3 separate regions of the Homo sapiens genome follow, and regions 2 and 3 are each linked to region 1. The links come from fine-mapping of genetic effects on gene expression. A gene starts in region 1. Each other region holds a variant in brackets. All regions are shown on one strand. Distances are between the middles of the regions.

Region 1 (6,021 bases):
TGGGGTGAAGTTTAGGAGAGGCGTTGCTTAGGCCCTTACCTTGGGATAGGGTTTGGGTGAGTTGGGAGCTGGTTGAAGACCTCGAGCTCAGATGACAGAAAGTTAGGACTTGGGATTCGGCGATGGGAAGGGGCACCCGGAGGCAAGTTTGGGGCGACTGGGAGGCAGAGAAGCCGGTACCCTGGGGTGGGTGAGGGGACGGAGGCTGAGGACGGTGGGAGCGTCGCGGTGGGGTGAGGGCAGGACCCTGTGGAGGTTCCAGGGCTCCTGGCCAGGGGGCCCGGGCCTCACGGGCTCTTTGTGCCTCTCCAGCTCGGTAGCGCGGCGGGCAAGGCAGGCGCCATGACCCTGATTGAAGGGGTGGGTGATGAGGTGACCGTCCTTTTCTCGGTGCTTGCCTGCCTTCTGGTGCTGGCCCTTGCCTGGGTCTCAACGCACACCGCTGAGGGCGGGGACCCACTGCCCCAGCCGTCAGGGACCCCAACGCCATCCCAGCCCAGCGCAGCCATGGCAGCTACCGACAGCATGAGAGGGGAGGCCCCAGGGGCAGAGACCCCCAGCCTGAGACACAGAGGTCAAGCTGCACAGCCAGAGCCCAGCACGGGGTTCACAGCAACACCGCCAGCCCCGGACTCCCCGCAGGAGCCCCTCGTGCTACGGCTGAAATTCCTCAATGATTCAGAGCAGGTGGCCAGGGCCTGGCCCCACGACACCATTGGCTCCTTGAAAAGGTAAGTAGGTCAAGAGGCAGGAGCAATGCTAAAGACAGGGGTTGGGAGAGTGGTCGCAGAAGGCCCCCAGAGACACCTAAGACCCAGCCCTCCTTTATACTGGAGGCGCTGAGCGCCCCAGATCACAACTGTACTTGTTCCCCTGGCAGACGGCCCCTCCCAGGCCAGGGCCGGTGTGTTGTGGAGGGCAGGGGGAGGGTGGGAGTGCTGTTCCGGGGCCAGGGACTAGGATTGCCTGAGGCCTGCTCTCTTACCCAGGTCCCTCTCTCCTCAGGACCCAGTTTCCCGGCCGGGAACAGCAGGTGCGACTCATCTACCAAGGGCAGCTGCTAGGCGACGACACCCAGACCCTGGGCAGCCTTCACCTCCCTCCCAACTGCGTTCTCCACTGCCACGTGTCCACGAGAGTCGGTCCCCCAAATCCCCCCTGCCCGCCGGGGTCCGAGCCCGGCCCCTCCGGGCTGGAAATCGGCAGCCTGCTGCTGCCCCTGCTGCTCCTGCTGTTGCTGCTGCTCTGGTACTGCCAGATCCAGTACCGGCCCTTCTTTCCCCTGACCGCCACTCTGGGCCTGGCCGGCTTCACCCTGCTCCTCAGTCTCCTGGCCTTTGCCATGTACCGCCCGTAGTGCCTCCGCGGGCGCTTGGCAGCGTCGCCGGCCCCTCCGGACCTTGCTCCCCGCGCCGCGGCGGGAGCTGCTGCCTGCCCAGGCCCGCCTCTCCGGCCTGCCTCTTCCCGCCGCCCTGGAGCCCAGCCCTGCGCCGCAGAGGACTCCCGGGACTGGCGGAGGCCCCGCCCTGCGACCGCCGGGGCTCGGGGCCACCTCCCGGGGCTGCTGACCCTCAGCCCGCACTGGGAGTGGGCTCCTCGGGGTCGGGCATCTGCTGTCGCTGCCTCGGCCCCGGGCAGAGCCGGGCCGCCCCGGGGGCCCGTCTTAGTGTTCTGCCGGAGGACCCAGCCGCCTCCAATCCCTGACAGCTCCTTGGGCTGAGTTGGGGACGCCAGGTCGGTGGGAGGCTGGTGAAGGGGAGCGGGGAGGGGCAGAGGAGTTCCCCGGAACCCGTGCAGATTAAAGTAACTGTGAAGTTTTCACTCTTGCAGTGTGTCTGAGTGTGTGCGGGCTGGCGGGCGGGGAGTCCTCGCCCCTTGGGAGAGAAGGGCACGGACTGCGCCTGGGGTCTGGCCCTCCGCCTTCCCTTCTCCCCAGCGTTCTGCTCTGGCTTTGGCGCCGGCCTCCGTGGCCCCGCCCTCGGCGCCGGGCGCGCACTTCCCGCGGGCGGGGCTCGCGGCTCCCTGGCTCGCAGTGCCTGCCGGGAGCCACGTCTCCGAAGACCGATAGCTGCTTCGGGATTGGCGTCCGGGCGGCTATCTAGGGGCTGCTGGGAAGATGGCGGACTCGGTGGCTAGCCGATGAGGAGGCCGCGGGGGGAACCCGGCCCCCGGGCCCCGAGACCGACTGAGGGAGCGACCTGCGCAGGGCCCGGGGAGTCATGTAGGGGTGGCGCCTGCGGGGAGGGCTGCGGGAGGGCAGCGGGAGCTGGTGTTAGCGGCAGCGGCCACGGTCTCCTGGCGTCCCTGGGCCGGGGTGGGTGTTGGGGCCCCCGACTTCGCCGACTCCGCGCCATCGCAAAGCGGTGCACTCGGGCTCCACGCGCGCCCTGCGAGGTGGGCGCTGCGTTTTCATTTCACGGGTGAGGAGACTTAGAGAGACGAAGCCACTTGTCCAAGGTCACGCCGCTGGTGAGTGGGAGCGCCCAGCATGGAACCCAGCACCGTCCAGCCGCGGAGCCCGCGTTCCACCCTCTGTGCCGCCGCCGCCTCCTGTGGGAGAGGGAGGTGGTCGGGAGAGTGCACGCCGGTGCCGCCTGGGCTCCAGACTGGGCGCGACCACTAACCCGGTTAATGACCTCGGGCTTAACTTAACCCCTTCGCTGCTCTGGGCCTGCGTTTCTCCACCGGTGAAATGAGGTAATGCCAGCCCTGCCTACTCTTCATGGGCGTGTAAGGAGCATCAGAGATGGTGCATGTGGAATTGCTTTGCAAGTAGTGCTGCGCTGAGCGCACTGAGGATTATGATTGCTGTTTCAAAGGCGTGGAAGGAGGCAGAGGGGCGGGGTGGGGAAGAGGCCCAGAGCAGTCACAAAGGCTTGCTCTGACCACAGGCCCCCTAAATGAGGAGTGAGGTAAGCAGTAGGTAGCAGGTCTTTCTCCCCTTTGGAGAAAACCTCACCCCCTTTTTTGGGCTGCCCCTCAGGGTCTCCATCACCCAACTCCATGCTTCGAGTCCTGCTCTCTGCTCAGACCTCCCCTGCTCGGCTGTCTGGCCTGCTGCTGATCCCTCCAGTACAGCCCTGCTGTTTGGGGCCCAGCAAATGGGGGGACCGGCCTGTTGGAGGAGGCCCCAGTGCAGGTCCTGTGCAAGGACTGCAGCGGCTTCTGGAACAGGCGAAGAGCCCTGGGGAGCTGCTGCGCTGGCTGGGCCAGAACCCCAGCAAGGTGCGCGCCCACCACTACTCGGTGGCGCTTCGTCGTCTGGGCCAGCTCTTGGGGTCTCGGCCACGGCCCCCTCCTGTGGAGCAGGTCACACTGCAGGACTTGAGTCAGCTCATCATCCGAAACTGCCCCTCCTTTGACATTCACACCATCCACGTGTGTCTGCACCTTGCAGTCTTACTTGGTGAGGAGGGGCTTGAGGTGGGCGCCTGGGGGGCTAGGTGTTAATGAAGAATAGGGAGAACAGTAGAGGACCACGGACAGAGACCCAGCCTCTCAGGCGTTTGCCCAGGAACGCTTGCTCCTGCTCCCGTCCTATGTCTGCGGCAGACATCATGAGTCGAACGCACTCCTTCCGGCCTCGCTAGGGTGCCACCCCAGATTCCTGCTAATAGAGTGCCCTAGGAAGCCACCATAATTTGTCACAATTGGTATGAGATGAAAGCCTATTTGCCATCTTTGTATGTACTCCCTACAAACCGTTTCGATACCTCATAGCCACATGATACTTTACATGTCTCTAGTGTTTGCACTTAAACTCTAGCACACCTTCCCGCTCAGGAAACGGGAGAGGAGAAAGGTGGAGAATTCACCAAGTAACCCCATGATAAGAACAGCAGCACAGCTCTGTTACCAGGCTGCCTTTTACCTCTCCCCCTCAGGCTTTCCATCTGATGGTCCCCTGGTGTGTGCCCTGGAACAGGAGCGAAGGCTCCGCCTCCCTCCGAAGCCACCTCCCCCTTTGCAGCCCCTTCTCCGAGGTGGGCAAGGGTTGGAAGCTGCTCTAAGCTGCCCCCGTTTTCTGCGGTATCCACGGCAGCATCTGATCAGCAGCCTGGCAGGTGCTGGAGGGGGTTAAAATCAGATGGGGGTGGGGAGGGCTGACAGGAGGAGGAAGGTGGGCTCAGTTGGCTGGGCTGAGGTGGAATTGAGCCAGCCGGAGGTCCGGCTGAGGCCCAGCGTGACAGGCTGCTCTTCACAGAGGCAAGGCCAGAGGAACTGACTCCCCACGTGATGGTGCTCCTGGCCCAGCACCTGGCCCGGCACCGGTTGCGGGAGCCCCAGCTTCTGGAAGCCATTGCCCACTTCCTGGTGGTTCAGGAAACGCAACTCAGCAGCAAGGTGGGCTTGCCACCCACCCTCCAGTGCATCTCTGTCATTCTCAGGGACCTTGTCAGGCCCAGCGCCTCGTGCAGCTCGGCTATCCTTTTCCTGAAGCAGACACACCCTCTCTGTCCCCTGGGACCTGCATCTTTTCTACACCCTTTCTGTGGCTTGCCCACCTCCTGTCAGCAGCATGCATTCCTGGAAATCTGCAGTTTCCCAAAGCACTCTTAGCAGCATCCTAGCTCCACCCATCCCTCTCGAAGTCTTCAGGGCCAGACCCCACAGCGATGTCCCCTCTGCCTGTCTGGTGATTAGTCACGTGCAGCTCGTGACTGCTTTGCTGTTGAACTGTGAGGCCGGAGGGACTGTCCTGTCTTTACAGCAGTGTTGTAAACCTGAGGGCTAAGCCTCTCTAAGGCTTAGCTTGTAAAAGATGACTGCAGAAATACTTGACACTGGGTAATGAACTGCTCTTCCTCCACAGGTGGTACAGAAGTTGGTCCTGCCCTTTGGGCGACTGAACTACCTGCCCCTGGAACAGCAGTTTATGCCCTGCCTTGAGAGGATCCTGGCTCGGGAAGCAGGGGTGGCACCCCTGGCTACAGTCAACATCTTGATGTCACTGTGCCAACTGCGGTGCCTGCCCTTCAGAGCCCTGCACTTTGTTTTTTCCCCTGGCTTCATCAACTACATCAGTGGTACGCAGCCAGGATGGCTGGCTGGGCCCCTGAGGGCTGGAGAGGCAGGGGAGCAGGGTGGCCTGCAGCCCAGAGCCCCAGTCCCCGCCTCCCCACAGGCACCCCTCATGCTCTGATTGTGCGTCGCTACCTCTCCCTGCTGGACACGGCCGTGGAGCTGGAGCTCCCAGGATACCGGGGTCCCCGCCTTCCCCGAAGGCAGCAAGTGCCCATCTTTCCCCAGCCTCTCATCACCGACCGTGCCCGCTGCAAGTACAGGTGGATGGGGCAGCCTGGGGCAAGGGGAGGGGCCAGCCTGGGACCAGCAGAGTGGAAAAGCCAGAGGGACCATGAAGCGCCAAAGCTAAGGAGCTCTCGGCCACCATAAAACTGGGCCCTGAAGCAGCAGAGGGCTTTGCCCAGGGTGGTGGCACTAGACTGGGACAGATTAGGATGAGGTGCCGGGCCCTTCCTGCTACTGGTGTCCTTTCTCCTCAGTCACAAGGACATAGTAGCTGAGGGGTTGCGCCAGCTGCTGGGGGAGGAGAAATACCGCCAGGACCTGACTGTGCCTCCAGGCTACTGCACAGGTGAGCAAGGGGCAGGCGGCAGGCCCGGGGAGACGGAGCCCTGGCTAAGGCCGCCGGCCCTGCTCCCCTCCAGACTTCCTGCTGTGCGCCAGCAGCTCTGGTGCTGTGCTTCCCGTGAGGACCCAGGACCCCTTCCTGCCATACCCACCAAGGTCCTGCCCACAGGGCCAGGCTGCCTCTAGCGCCACTACTCGAGACCCTGCCCAGAGGTAAAGGAGGCAGGGTGGGGGAGCCCTGGCCACCTTGCCCGCCATGCCCTGAGCCACGTCCCTCCCCCTGCAGGGTGGTGCTGGTGTTGCGGGAACGCTGGCATTTCTGCCGGGACGGCCGGGTGCTGCTGGGCTCGAGGGCCCTGAGGGAGCGGCACCTAGGCCTGATGGGCTACCAGCTCCTGCCGGTGAGTGGCCCTGGCCTGGCCCGTGGCG
Region 2 (7,278 bases), 160 kb after region 1:
TGTTGGAAGTTGCAGAAACCCAACTCCAACTAGCTTATGCTAAAAGGGAATCTGTTGGGTGCTATAACATAGAAGGGCAGGATATTACTGGTTTTAGGTTAGGCTGGATTTACATGATCAACTGATGTCCTGAGAGCTCAGTCTGTCGCCAACTTTGGCTCTGCTTTACTCTTGTTGGGTTCATTCTCTGGCAGTATCTTTCTGTGGCTTTAAGAAAGCGACTGGTAGCTCCAGGTTGTGATGTTTACAAATGCAGCTCTCATGAGGGAAGCCCTGTTTCTCTTTAATAGAAATAACCAGGCTGGATGCAGAGGCTCACACCTTTAATCCCAACATTTCGGGAGGCCGAGGTGGGAGCATTGCTTGAGCCTAGGCATTTGAGACCAGCCTAGGCAACATAAAGAGACCCCATCTTTACCCCCGCCAACAACAAAAAACAGAATTAGCTGGGTGTAGTCCCAGCTACTCAGGAGGCTGAGGTAGGAGGATCACTTGAGCCCAGGAGTTTTTGAGGCTGCAGTGAGCTATGATAGTGCCACCGTACTCTAGACTGGGCAACAGAGTGAGGCCCTGTCTCTAAAGAAAAAGAAATAAAATTAAATCAGCAGCATCAAATGGAAAATTGGCCCTGCTTGGGTCATGTGCCCATCCTTCTTGAATTAATCTAGGATGACCAGGCATGTGCCACGTGATTCTTCCTCTGTGGTGTAGTTGAACCATGCAAAGCTGTGTGAGGGGCAATTTCCAAAAGGAAGGAGAGCTGGGCCGCTGGAGCATAGCAGAGCCCACTGTGATTCTGTGTTTCATACCCCTGCCATTTATGCCACAAGTGCCTTTCCTCTTCTTCCTTTAGCCTGCACCTGCGCTTCTAGCTGCTCATGTCCTATTTCTTGCTGGTGAGTGTGCCTATATTTTCATACTTGATTCACTCAGACAACCACCATCTAGGTTGGGAAATCGAACTCACCGGCCCCCTAGAAGCTCCTGTGTGATGCTTCCTGATCACAATCTGTCTGTGAAAGACAAAACAAAAAATACCTTTAGAAAGTAATAGCAGGAAACTAGAAGCACTAAATCTAAAGGAAAACATTAGTTCATATGACTACACTAAAATGAAGAATTTCTGTTTATCAAGAGACATCTTTAGGGAGTACCCATACAAATTCCCACAATGACAAGGACATATCACAAGGATAGAGGAGCCAGCCTGAACGAGCTTCCAGTGGCCAAAGCTGGAACAATTTGAGCAGCAAAGTAAATAACAATAGTAGTGAATTATAAACTAAAGAATAAAATAAATATCTGTGAGTACAAACTGATATAAATACATGATTGAGTATGTAAATAAAATGGGAAGACGGGATAAGTCTTCCATACAGAAGAATTCTAAAGTAGGTAGACGCTCCTCCCTCCAGAAATATGAGTTTCAGCATGAGCTAGACTTAGGGACTTGCTTCCAAAGAACGGAATATGGAAAAGGCAGAAGAGTCACATTACAGTGGGAAAGCCTTAACCAAATGCTCAAAGCTAATATTCCCCATGATGAGCCATGCTGAGATCACGTGCCCTAGATATGAAGTGAGGAGAAGGGCGCCTCTCGTCTGTGGTTCGCCTCTAACACATATGCCCAGTCTAATCGTCCAAAGACATCAGACAAGCCCAAAATGAGGGACATTCTACAAAATACTTAATCTTCAAAGGTGTCAAGATCCTAAAAAAGGACTAAGAAATGGTCACACGCGGGAGGAGGAAACCTAAGGAGACATGACAATGAAGTGAAACGCAGTGACCGGGATTGGATTCCGAAACAGCAAAAGGACATGAATGGAAAGAGTGGTGAAGAGTGTTTCGTTTAATTAATAGTATTGCACCACTGTCAGTTCCTCAGTGTTGACAAATGTACTGTGGTAACTTAAGATGTTAACGTTAGGGGAAGCTGGGTGAAGCCTATGTGGAACTCTGCATTATCTTTGCAACTTTTCTGTAAACCTAAAATTATTCGAAAATAGAAGTTTATTAAAAACACATCTGTATGGCCAGGTGGGGTGGCTCCCGCCTGTAATCCCAGCACTTTGGGAGGCTGAGGCGGGCAGATCACTTCAGATCAGGAGTTTGAGACTAGCCTGACCAACATGGGGAAACCCCGTCTCTACTAAAAATACAAAAATTAGCCGGGTGAGGTGGCGCATGCCTGTAATCCCAGCTACTCCGGAGGCTGAGACAAGAGAATTGCTTGAACCCGGGAGGTGGAGGTCGCAGTGAGCCGAGATCACGCCACTGCACTCTAGCCTGGGTGACAAAGTGAGACTCTGCCTAAAACAAAAAACAAAACAAAACAAAACATCTCTGAGAGGAAAAAAAGCTGAATCACAGAGGGGAAGAAGGTATGTGCAGTGCACATAACCTACAAAAGACTCCTATTCAGAATGTACAGAGTCCTTACAAATCAACATGAAAAAGGCACTGGAATCAATAGAAAAATAAATGAGTAAAAGAACAGAACAAGCACATTGCAAAATAGGACAGCCAAATGGCCAAGAAACATGAAAAAGTGCCTTGTCTCATTAGGGAACTGTGCATGAATTATTGTTTAAAATATTTGTTTTGTGGCTGTGTTTCTTCTTCGTGCATTCCAATTTTGTGGGAGTTGCAGCTCCTCTGCCTTCCTTCATAGCTGTCACTTTCTCTCTTTGTTTGCCTTTCATTTCGCTCGCCCGTCTAATCCGTTTCCCCCTTCTGGGTTCCGAAGTACTTTCTCGTGCTGCTTCCAGTTTTGTCTTCATTTTTGTGATGATTTAAATTTTGATTCTACTCTTTCCTGGGTTTTGCCAGCTTTCTTTTCATATCCTTCTGTTTTCTCACCATCTCTTTCTTGAGCTGTTACTTAAGTTTAAAAAATTCATGGCAAAATATTTGGATATGCTTTTCATCTGTTCATTGCAACACATTTTTGACAAGTGTTTTTTATCTGCCATTTTTCTCTCATTTTTAGTCTATAATATTTTTGTATAGATTGTGTATAGATCTAAATATTATCCTTCTTTGATGCAGACAAGTTTTTCTTGGACCAGATATTTGCAGGAGGTTCGTAAGAGGTAGGGGCCGGGGCCATTCTAGGCTGACACAAATGAACCTGTGAATTATACATATATTTTAAAAAACAGAATTTGTTTAAACTTTTTCTTTTCTCCGCTCAGCAGGGATAGGAAGGTGTAGAGCTGTCTGCAATGCAAAGTCTTTCTTCTGCTGTTGCGTTAGGGTGTGTATTACTTTCATATTTGTAGTAACAAACACTGCAAACTTAGAACAATGCACATTTGGCTTAAAATAACACAACTTTATATCTTACAGTTCTGTAGATCCAAAAGGGGTCATAGTGGGCAAAATGATTTATGACCCCTTTTGGATCTCCAGAACTGTAAGATATAAAGTGGTGTCAAGATGTTTGCAGGGCTATGTTCCTTCTGGTGGTTCTAGGGGAGAATCCACTTCCTTGTCTTTTTCAGTGCCTGGAGGTCAACGACATCCCTTAGCTTATGGCCTGGTCCTCCATCTTCAAATGCATAAACACAGCATCTCCAGATCTCTCTCTTGGACATTCCTGCCTCTCATAAGAACCCTTGTGATTACATTGGGCCCACCTGGAAAATCCAGGCTAATCTCAGCATCTCAAGATCCTTCATTTAATCATACCTGCGAAGTCCCTTTTGGCAAGTAAAGTAGCGTGTTCACAGGTTTTGGAGATTATAATGAGGACATCTTGGCGGGGGCACTCTTCTGCTGCCTCAGGGGTCACAGTCTGGATTAGGATGCTTATTATATGTGCCCTTGGGTCAATGCCTGAGGAAGGGAGGAGGGGAAGCAGGAATGGGCAGAGGCAGTTGTTGGGCTGGGATGCAGCCTGACAGCCTCTGCTCACCCATGAGGAGGTCCGGGGCCGAAAGGAACAAGAGAGTTGTCTGGGGTTGGGCAGATGTGGTGAACTTTGATACTTCTGCTTCCATTAGTCTTTGGATATGGGTTGCACACAAGCTGATGTGACCTGGATGAGCAGTGGTCCTCAGCTGAAGAAGC[C/T]CTGGCGAGGCTGACAGCTCGAGGTCGCCCCTGATGGCACTTGCAGAAGGTGGGACAGGTCCTTCCTCAAAGCAGGGTTTGGGTGGCGCATCTCCATGGGTCCTCTGGACAGACTGCTTCCTACAAAAAGCGCTCATCAGTGTGACTGCACCTTCACCCGCCTCTGCTTCTTGGGATCCGATTCGGTCTTGGGAGGCCCCCTGGGGTCTGCCTCCACTGTTGGAAGTGAGGAGTCCCAGGTTTTCTCTCTGGGCTGCACCCTCATCCTCCTGAGCCACCACTGCCAAGGACTCTCTCCTCTCATCCTGCATGCGCAGTCTTCACTCCATTTGGAGAGGATATTGTTCAGAGACCTATCTGTCTCCTAGCTTCATCAGGTATGGCCACTGTGTTTTGGTTTTCCTTTCTGCTCGATGGTCCAGGGCAATTTCCAAGAAGGTAAGGGGAAAGCCATCTCACACCATAGGATCCAAACTGCTCTCTCCCCTTCTTAGAGAATCAACTTCTCTCCACTCTAGGAGGACAGGAGGCACTGTGACCTGCGCTCGCTCCCGCACCCCACCCTCTGCCACTCCACTTCAAAGGCACGCCATCCCTTGCAACACACAGTCCCAACAATCTGTGTGGCTGGTGCCCTCTGGCCTTACCCCCTCTCCTGGATGATCCTGACTTCTCGTCACTCCATTCCTGGGGCACACACATTATGGTGAGCATAACTTGCAGGCTCCCTCCATCTCCACCTCGCTGTAGACATACCTGAACTCCATCCTGTCTTGGCCTTAGCTGCATCAGGCTTCTGAGATCCCAGACTTGGCATTTCCCCACTGGTCAGCACTGCCTGCATCTCCAGCCTGTCCTTCACCTCCCTGATCAGCGTTCTCAGATCCAGGTGTCCTTCCCTCCCTGATTGACCCAGTTCATCCCACTGTTGTTGCTACACTTGAGCCCTCATAACTTTTCAGCTACTTCATGAAATTCTAGCACTTGGACATTAAAATGGGACTTACATGTCCTCTAGGTCAACTTGTATTTGTGGGAAACAGCCTCCAGCTTTCTGTGTGGTGAAGCAAGGGGCCCGGGCGTGCGTGGCCTAGGCCTGGGTGTGTGGTCATGTTTTCTCTAGCTGGAGGATGCTCCTCCAGCTGTCTCTTGGCTGAGGGGCTTGCAGAGTGGACAGGAGCGAGGTATAGAGGAGAGCTTTGAGCATATAAAGAAGTTCTTTTGGGTTGAGTTCTCTAGATGGGGTTTAGGGGAGGAAAAAGAATCCCCAGTCAACAGAATTAATTTGGGACTATCCTCTTTGAAGAAAGGGAGTTAGTATAGAGTGGGGAAAACATTTGCCTTGGAGTTGGATTGACTTGGGTTCAAATATGAGCTCCAACATGTGCTGGCTGTGTGACCTCAGAGTCATTGCTTAAAGGACCTCATTTATTGTACCTGTAAAGTGGTTAGTGACAGGATCTCCCCATATGTGGTCATGCAATTTAAAGGATATGTGAAAAGCTTGGCAAGTGTTTAGTTAGGTTAAGCCATGCTCACTGCTGTAGTAAGCCAACTCCAAAACCTTAACCATGGTTAAGAAATAAACCTCAACCGTGGTTTATTTCTCATTAGGGCAAGGTCCCAGGCAGTGCTCCTCCCTGCCATGACAGAGGTCGAGGGGCTCACATCCTGTGACTCTGCCCTCTCAGCAGGCGGCCTCTGTAGTGGCTGCCATGTGGAGAGTGGCTACCAGGTGGTGACCGAAGAGACACACCAGCTTGGAGCTTTGCTTGGAGCCAGTTTCATGGCCCCATTGAAATGCATGGGAGGCCAGGAAACATGAGGGAGACTGACGGGCTGACTCACGTATCTTAGTTCTTTACTCCACAAACATGACAACATTTTGCATTTTCCTTTGAATGAGAACCCCATAACAATTCCTTTAGCAAATCCCATGGTGGCCTCAGATGTCCTATTAGAAAAGGGGGTTCACACTTCCACACTCAGGTCTGGATTGGGACCAGGAATGTGATGGAGAGGCTGGCAGTAAGGACATTTTAAAAAAAGATGTCTAAATTTCTCAGAAGGAGAAGGGAAACCAGAAAAAGATGGGAGAAATTTAAAACTCTGGGGGATTGAACCTGGAGTGGTGGTGAATGTACTTTCCTTACTGCTGGAATGTTCCTTTGAATCCATGCAAAATGAAAATCCCCTCCACCACAGCCCAGATGGATGGACCCCTGTCCAGGAACAGAGCATGCTTGACTTCGCTGGACAGTGCCTGTTGTAGGCGAAATCTGTCTTCTAGTGCCTTGCATCTGTTGGTCCTGCTTCTCCTTCCAGCTGCTCCATAAGCCCAGCCTCTGACAACGACTCAGATATGTTAGGCAAATGCTCGGGTCCCCTCAACCTTTTCTTCTCTGCGCAAAACAGCCCTTAACACTGCAACCACTCCTGGGAGGATAGAATTTTGAGGTGCTGGCAAGACACAGGGAGAGAGCCCTCACTAGCCCAACATCGCTGGCTTCATGAGTCTGCAGAGCTTAACACTTGGCTGCCCCTGTGGGGACAAAAGAAAGGCCCCCAGGAGAGCTTGGTTACTAGAATCAATGCAAATGGCAGGAGACAGGTTGCCTTCTAGGCCAAAGGTAAATCAGACATGACTTTAATAAAGCTAAATAAATAATGCGAGCAGAGGAAGGGCGACTTGGGGATAGACAACCCACAAAATGGGGAGTCCGAGAGATGGATGTTGACGGTGTCTGCCCAGCACTGTCCGGGGGACATGGAATTTGAGTGTTGTGAGCATCCAGGATGCTGGAGCGCTGATGTCTCGGGCAGGGAGAGTCATCAGGCCATATCATAGCGTTGGGGAGATGCCCTCCAATATTAGCACCTGCCATGGACCAAATTCCATGTTCACAGGCAATGTTTAGTTTAACAATTTTACGTACCAGTTCTCTGATCCTGGGAAAGACAGTGTTCTGGTGGGAAGGTCATTCTGGTGGTTGGAGTGGGAACGAATCCACTGGACCCTGGTTCATCTATCAGTCTATTGCGGGCAGGAACCATTCTCTGCTAGAACGATTCCCCAGGGAGGCTGTGCACCACTGACAGTTGCCACTGTTATCTATTTTCCATTCTTCCCTGTTAGTAGAATCCACATGCCAGCTAAAATACTCACCCTCCAGACCCTCCTGAAGCTCAGGGGAGCTGTGTGCC
Region 3 (7,278 bases), 90 kb after region 1:
CTCTAAAGCCTCAGCTCCACGCCCGCTGGCCTGAAGGGTGGGGGGCCGGACGCCTGGGTTCCGCTGTGAGGACTGAGGCTGATAAGTGGGAGCCCAGGTGTCCAGCAGAGCCCTGGGGCTGCAGCATGGGGGCTGGGGCATTGGGGAGTGGCAGGGTAGAGCCACCAGGGGGTCATAAAGGTCCTTCTGTGATGTGGCACCAGACGGAAGGGCCTTCGGCCTCACCCCTGTGTGCCTTTCCCTGGAGGGTTGGGCAGAAGGTGAGCACCGTTTCTGTAGCAGGGGATGGCAGCCCACACTCTCAGTGACCACAGGGACCTCTAGGGTCATGCAGGTTCTCTCCTTCACCTCCCCCCATACATACAAGAACTCCTGGATCCCCACCCTTGAGTCCTTTTGGGTTCTTGGGGATAGAGGCCCAGCAAGGATGTAGTGACTTTTTGTCCTTGAGTCTGACATTAGGGTATCCCTTCCCCTCCCAGCCCCAATTTCCTGGAACCCCCACACCCCCATGACTCAAGTGGGGGACACAAAAGAGCAGGAAGCTGCCTTCCAGTGCCTCCACCCCCACCCTGTCATTCAGTGACGCACGCTTCCCGGGGCCGCAGGTCAGCAGAGAGACTAGGGCTGAGGCAGGGTCAGCCGGCCAGGGAAGAGCTTGATGCCCTGGTGGGAGCATGGGGGACTAGGGAAACTACAGTTCCCAGAATGCAGGTGGGGTACACCAGCACTCTCCAGGCACTTCAGGCCAGAGTGCATGCTGGGGTTTGTAGTTCTGTGCCATCTGAGGGGCTGGAGAAAGGCCACTAGCTGGGCATCTGGTCCACAGGGGTCGAAGCCTCGTGATTTCGAGACCTCAGAGACTGAGAGAAAGTTTAAGAAAGAAACGGAAGCTGAGAGACTGGGAGAGGCAGAGACTAGGAGCAGCAGACAGACAGACAAACAAACAAGAGGATTTGTGTTGGCCAGACTCCTCTGAAAAGCAGTGGAGGATAAGGTTGGGGTGGGCCTGGGTGGGGGGCCGGCAGGCGGAAGGAACGGGCTGTGCTCAGAGCTCTGGGGTCACACCAAGAAGGTGGGGTCTGCCAGTTTTGGAGGATGGAGGGTGAAGGGGCCTCATAAGCTGCTCCTGGACACTAGTGTGCCCTGCTGCCCCTGTCTCAGGAGGAGGGAGATGGAAGGGCGGCATTCAGCCTGGGCTTTGTCCCATGACCCCAAGCCTGAGGCCCCACCACACCCCACCACCTCGCCTTCCCAGTGAGGCAGGGGATGGGATCCAGCCCCTACTTTTCAGGCATCTTCTACCATGCTGGAGGAGACAACAGATCCCAAGTCTGGCTTCCATATTAAGCCACCATTTGAAATGTGCATGACCAAGGATGACTCATTTTCCTAGGTCCCAGTTAATGGAGCTGTGACTGGCATCCTCAGGGTCAAGGTGACAGGCAGCATCAGATGCTGACATCCTTCTGTCTTTTTTTTTTTTTTAGACAGAGTCTTGCTCTGTCACCCAGGCTGGAGTGCAGTGGTGTGATCTTGGTTCATTGCAACCTCTGCCTCCCGGAGTGATTCTCATGCCTCAGCCTCCCGAGGACGACAGGCACCCACCACCACGCCTGGCTAATTTTTTTTTTTTTTTGAGACAGAGTCTCGCTTTTGTTGTCCAGGCTGGAATGCAATGGTGCTATCTCAGCTCACTGTAACCTCCGCCTCCTGGGTTCAAGCGATTCTCCTGACCCAGCCTCCTGAGTAGCTGAGATTACAGGTACCCACCACCACGCCCGGCTAATTTTTATAATTTTATTAGAGACAGGGTTTCACCATGTTGACCAGGCTGGTCTCGAACTCCTGACCTCAGGTGATCCACCTGCCTCGACCTCCCAATGGGCTGGGATTCCAGGTGTGAGCCACCATGGATGGCCATTGTCTTCTTGCCTGCACCACTGGCTGTGGCCCGTCCCTGTGGCCACCTGACCCCTCCCAGGCCTTCCAGTCCCATCTGGGCTCCACACTCTGCTAGATTCTTCTGGAAAGCAGGGCTTACCTTACGCTTTGGCACTACCCAAAACCCTCAGCCAAGAACAAAGCCACTCCAGCACATTGGCCTGGCCCTCATTTTCCTTGGTGCACTGCTTGAATCCTCTGTTCTAGACAAATGGGCTTTCTCGTGTCTCCCTAATGGTCCTGTGCTTCCCTGCCCCTGGGCCGCTGCTGTGCTGTTCCCTCCACCTCTCCCTTCCGCCTCTGACAAATGAAAATCTTTTTCTTCCTTGAGGCCCAGCCTGGGCAGCTCTGGAGGTGCACCACCCAGGCCTCCCTCTTAGAGAGCAGGTACCTGCTGCAGAAGGTGCTGGTGGCTGACAGCTTCCAGATGCCAGCCTTCAGTCCAAGGCCATGTGCTTCCCTGGAGTCTTGTGTAGGATATAATAAATTCCTCTTCTAAGGTTTTAGCCTGTAAATTAAGTACAATGAGTTCTGAGATCCTCTCCAAAGATCCAATGCATCAGTATGTTCAGCTTTGTTCTTCATCTTAAAGTTTAACTTTCATGTTCTCTTCGTCTCCTTGCCCCTAGTTTCAGTAAACAACCCCCTCCTAGCTTCTATCACCTGCTCCGAACTGAGTCACCACTGGTCACCTGCTCTGACCTGAGTCATCCTGAGTCACCTGTTCTGTGACCGTCCTTCCTGCCAAACTACTTACCCTGCCAATCCGGCTCTTACCCCTGCTCTCTTTAAAATAGCCAGTAACAATTAGCTCAGACGGTGTGGTCCAACCCTAGCCAATAGGGGAACAACACAGCTGTAGGGGCTACCTGCCTTAGGGATAAAAACCCCTTCCCTTCCCTTGTTCAGGTGTGCTCTTGCCATTGCTCCATCTGTGAGATGCACCCTTCTATAGAAGTAAAATTGCCTTGCTGGGAACATTTATATCTGAGTGCTATTTCTTTTGTGGCAC[C/T]GAAAATTTATTTCTAACACTTAGACAGTAACTGAGCCCCGGGGCGTCTGTGGGCGTAACATCCCCCGCTGGGCTGATGTGAGGCCCTTCTTCTTCTTCCCTCCTCTGCAGGTGTGAGCCTGGCATTGTGGGCCTGATCCTTCCCCTGCCCAACTCACTCCTGCTCCCGGTCCCTGTTATCTTTCTCAGGCATTGCCCGCAGTATTCCTCTTATGCTTCCAACTCCTGGGACTCTGCTTCCTGAAGGACCCAACCAACACAGTCGCAGGATGACTCCTCTGTGAGGTCTTCCTTACGTCCCCTTCTCCATGATCTCTGGGTGGCTGTCACCCTGTCCCCAAGGCCCCGGGGACAGCTCTTTCTCTGGGCCCTCCTGGTCGTGGTTTTTGGGCAGCTTGCTCTGTAAGTGTGGGTTCTCACTTAAATGAACCTGTGTGCTCTGAACCTGTGTGCTCTGGAAGACACAGGTCAGTTCCTCTCTGTGGGGATCCTCTGCTGGGTTGAGCTCCTGCACTGAGTGGGATTGCTTCATACATTGGCTTGTTTTGTTGCAAATGTGTGCAGCCGCCTGGGGACTGGAAGCTGTGCTCTGGAGGCAATGGAGAGGGTCCACTGAGAAGGGAATTGGCTGAGGCTAGATGGGTCTGTGTGGGCAGAAAGAAGTCAGTCTAGGTGAAGGGGAGGAGTGCAAGAAGGAGCACTCTGTGGCCACAGGGAGGATGGGTTACAGTTCAGTACAGCCAGCACTGAAGGCTGAGGGTCACAGGGAGGATGGGGTCCAGTTCAGTACAGTCAGCGCTGAAAGCTGAGGGTCAGAGTAGGCCTGGATTGGGTTTGAATTGGGGCAGAGGATGCCATGGCAGGGTCTTAAGAAAAGGAGGAAAAAAAAAAGTTAAACAGACAGAAAAAGTCAGAGATGAATGCTCTCTGGACAGGGGATTCCCTGCTTCCCCTTTCTTGGGCCGTGGCCAGTGTTGTCCGGAGTGTCCTGCCTTCCATCAGGGTGCTCTGATGAGAACAGTTGATTCCCCCGCCTGTCGGAGGAGGCCTGCCGTCCCCAGGGCTCTGCCTGGTGCTGGCCTGCTCTATGCCTGCAGCCCTGCCAAGAATGATGCCCATGCATCTTAGTGGCTGACTGCTCATATTGGTAACCATGTTTTAAAGAGGACTTTCCGAAAAAACAGTTTTCAAGGTTGGAGATTTGGTGTTCGGCTGAAAGAATTTCCATCTTCAATCATGAGATCTGAAGCTGAATGGGCTTTGGAGATGATCTGGTTGGGAACTGAGCCCCCTTGTCCCTGACAGTGGCTGTGTTTCCGCCTCGGGGAGGGCTGGCCCAGACCCCAGGGGTAAGGTGACAGCCTTCTGTGGGTGAGTAGGGATCCCTCCCTGGGGAGGGCTGTGCCCTGTGCCCCCTGCCCCCTCCATAATGCCAAAGAGGCGGCAAATCTTGCCCCTGCCTTCCCTCTCAGACCAGAGTGCTCTGCAGGGCTGGGCGGGGGACGCCTTGACCTTGGAGGGCTGTGCTGGGAAGGGAAGGCCTTGGGCCTGGGGTGTGTGCATGGGGGCCTGGGTGGTGAGGGCAGGGGTGACTGAGCGGAAGTCCCTGACTCTTTATAGCCCAGCCCGGGGCTGTTCAGTGTGAGCTGGAAGTACCCCACCCTTGCACTATGAGCAGCTTCCTTCCTGCCTGCTGGCAAGGACGGGTGGGGAGCGGGGAAAGGAGGGAAGGGAGGCGGGAGCAGCGGGAGAGGGGCGGGGAGCAGCTGCCGCCAGGCCTCCCCCTCCCGAGGATGTAACTCATGCTGAGTGCTGGGGGGCGGAGAGATTTGCTCAGCTTCCAGATTGCAGAATTGGTGCTGAGCCTTTGGTGAGGGCGTTGGGGCGGCTTCTGGGATGCTGAGGGTTCCGGGCTGTGGACGCGGTTGCCGGTCTGAAGGGGCTCCTGTGTTGATCCTGGGCGCCCCCTGGTAGCCCCAGCCCTTCTTGAGACAGCCACATGAGGGCAGCAGAGAGCCGAGGAGGAGCGATTTCAGCACAATCGTGGGATCAGACACCACGAAGGGAGGGGGAGACCCAGGGGATAGGAAAGGAGCCAACGGCATCGGGTGGTAGGTCTACACCAGCCATCTGGGGTCCCAAGGTGGCTCATTTGGGCCCACCCCCAGAGGAGCAGATTGGGACAAATCTGCGCCTCCCTGCTTCCTGCACAGACCACATGGGGTGTGTCAAACCGAAGGCTCAGGAGGTATCTTCACATACACACGTACACGCACACACATACATCCATGCATGCATGCACACTTTCTTACACATATATCCATGCATGCATGCACACACATACACATATATACATGCATGCATGCACAGTCACACACACATACATCCATGCATACTCTCTTACACACACAAATGTTTCGGGGAACGTTTGATTTCCCCACAAATTCATAAGTTGAGATCCTAGCCCCCAAGGTGATGGTGTTAGGAGGCGGGGTGTTTGGGAGGTGTTGAGATCGTGAGGGAGGAACCTTCCTGAATAGGATGCGTGCCCTTAAGAAAAAAACCCCAGAGAGATCCCTCACCTTTCCATCATGTGAGGACACAGTGAGAAGGCGCTGTCTATGAACATGGGTCCTCACCAGACCTTTCCATCATGTGAGGACACAGTGAGAAGGCACTGTCTATGAACCGTGGGTCCTCACCAGACATGGAATCTGCCAGCACCTTGATCTTAGACTGCGGCATCCAGAACTGTGAGAAATAAATTTATGTTGTCTTTAGGCCACCCGGTCCTTGGTGTTTTCTTACAGCAGCCTGAACAAACGGACACACACACATACATCCATGCATACGTGCACTCTCTCTCTCTCTCTCACACACACACACACACACACACACACACTCAGGGCAGTGGTGTTGAAGGAAGAATCTAAACCTGAAGGTTGATCAAGGCCTGGAGATTCTTGCATTTCCCTTGGGAAGGTGGAAGTTGGTCCAGACTCCCAAGAGCCCCCAGAGGCTGGCAGACCCCTGCCACTGCCAGGGTAAGGTCTTGGGTTTCCAGGTCACTGGGTCTGTCAGCCAGGAGGCAGAAGCGTCTCTGGAAGAGGTTCACCAGGCTCTGCCCCAGGGAGCCCACCTGAGGGCGGGGCAGCATCTCCCTGTGCCCCCTCCCTGCTCCCCAGCTGGGGAGCTCCCCCCCTCACAGTTTTGCAGTTGTCCATGGGTTGTGCATCCTGGGCTCCCTCACTGACCAGCCTCCTCATCTGGGCCCTGCCCCTCCAAAGCTAATTTGGGCCAAGAGCATCTGTGTGGATATGAAGGCTTTCCCATCCGTGGGAACTTGAAATTTCCTCCTTTTTTTTTTTTTTTTTTTTGAGATGGAGTCTCGCTCTGTTGCCCAGGCTGGAGTGCAGTGGCGTGATCTCAGCTCGCTGCAAGCTCCGCCTCCCGGGTTCACGTCATTCTCCTGCCTCAGCCTCCCGAGTAGCTGGGACTACAGGCTCCCGCCATCAAGCCCAGCTAATTTTTTTGTATTTGTAGTAGAGATGGGGTTTCACCGTGTTAGCCAGGATGGTCTCGATTTCCTGACCTCATGATCCGCCCGCCTCGGCCTCCCAAAGTGCTGGGATTACAGGCGTAAGCCACAGCGCCTGGCCGAAATTGTCCTTTATTCCGGGGATCCAGAGTGAGAACGAGGGGGTTTCAGGGGCAGGCTGAGGCCTCCTGAATGCTCACCATAGGTGCCCTGTCTTGGGCTCTGAAGGCCCTACATACAAAGTCATCCTATCTGCTGAGGCAAAGATATAAGGTTACCTCGGACTTGAGACGGATGGTTGTCAGGGATCCATCTGACAGGCCCTGCCCCCTTCCTGCCTCCTCCTGTCTCCCTCTCCTGCCACCCTCAGCCTGGCCCAGTTTCCTGGCATGGTTGCTGTGGCGCCTCTTGGGAATCGGAGCTTTGGGCCTCAAGTGTGCCCAGCATGGAAATTCCACAGCAACTGTCACTGGGATCGTCTGGACAGAACCCTCTCAGGTGCCCCCAGGAGGGGCTGGGCCCTCTCTCCAGACCAGGGTGGGAGGAGCAGCCTTTAGAGCCCCCTGCTGATCTGTGAGATGTGGAAATCCTGACTTCAAGCCCTGGAGAACCTTCAGTCATTGGTGACTTGTCTTTTTTCCTGCTCTCCCCAAATGGATTACATGCCCGACTCCCAGTGACCTCCCAGAGGCGTCCCTGACATATTTGCTGTTGATGATGACCTGAGGCTTCCGAGGGGCTCCCAGGAAATGGGGTTCCCAGTCTGTCGTCTGGTTTCCTAAGC

What was found. PIP is the estimated chance that this variant, and not a neighbour inherited with it, causes the effect.
Region 2: its variant is the best candidate, but not a certain one, in a credible set for the expression of FASTK in anterior cingulate cortex (GTEx, PIP 0.68).
Region 3: its variant is the best candidate, but not a certain one, in a credible set for the expression of FASTK in fibroblasts (GENCORD, PIP 0.77).

Annotation. Positions count from the first base shown.
Region 1 is chr7:151,076,885-151,082,905 of GRCh38, reverse strand. FASTK (Fas activated serine/threonine kinase) reads left to right here and starts at 2,097. Exons shown (of 10, transcript NM_006712.5): 1 at 2,097-2,221; 2 at 2,984-3,406; 3 at 3,885-4,064; 4 at 4,205-4,344; 5 at 4,814-5,027; 6 at 5,126-5,285; 7 at 5,505-5,596; 8 at 5,670-5,805; 9 at 5,879-5,993. The coding sequence starts at 2,140. It overlaps TMUB1 (transmembrane and ubiquitin like domain containing 1), which reads left to right. Exons shown (of 3, transcript NM_001136044.2): 2 at 313-731; 3 at 1,006-1,821. The coding sequence starts at 343. The coding sequence ends at 1,357. RefSeq lists enhancers at 790-1,084, 1,802-2,777, 2,778-3,754, 4,731-5,706, 5,707-6,021 and silencers at 1,683-2,362, 5,825-5,904.
Region 2 is chr7:150,913,684-150,920,961 of GRCh38, reverse strand. No RefSeq gene overlaps it. Among named protein-coding and RNA genes, the nearest start is that of KCNH2, 61 kb to the left of the region's middle. The variant C/T (reference allele first, on the strand shown) is at 4,075.
Region 3 is chr7:150,986,358-150,993,635 of GRCh38, reverse strand. It overlaps NOS3 (nitric oxide synthase 3), which reads right to left and starts at 2,619. Exons shown (of 27, transcript NM_000603.5): 1 at 2,336-2,619. RefSeq lists promoters at 1-54, 1-890, 1-1,457, 2,399-3,267, cis regulatory regions at 364-370, 1,377-1,397, a silencer at 630-660 and enhancers at 4,538-4,697, 5,204-5,244. The variant C/T (reference allele first, on the strand shown) is at 2,957.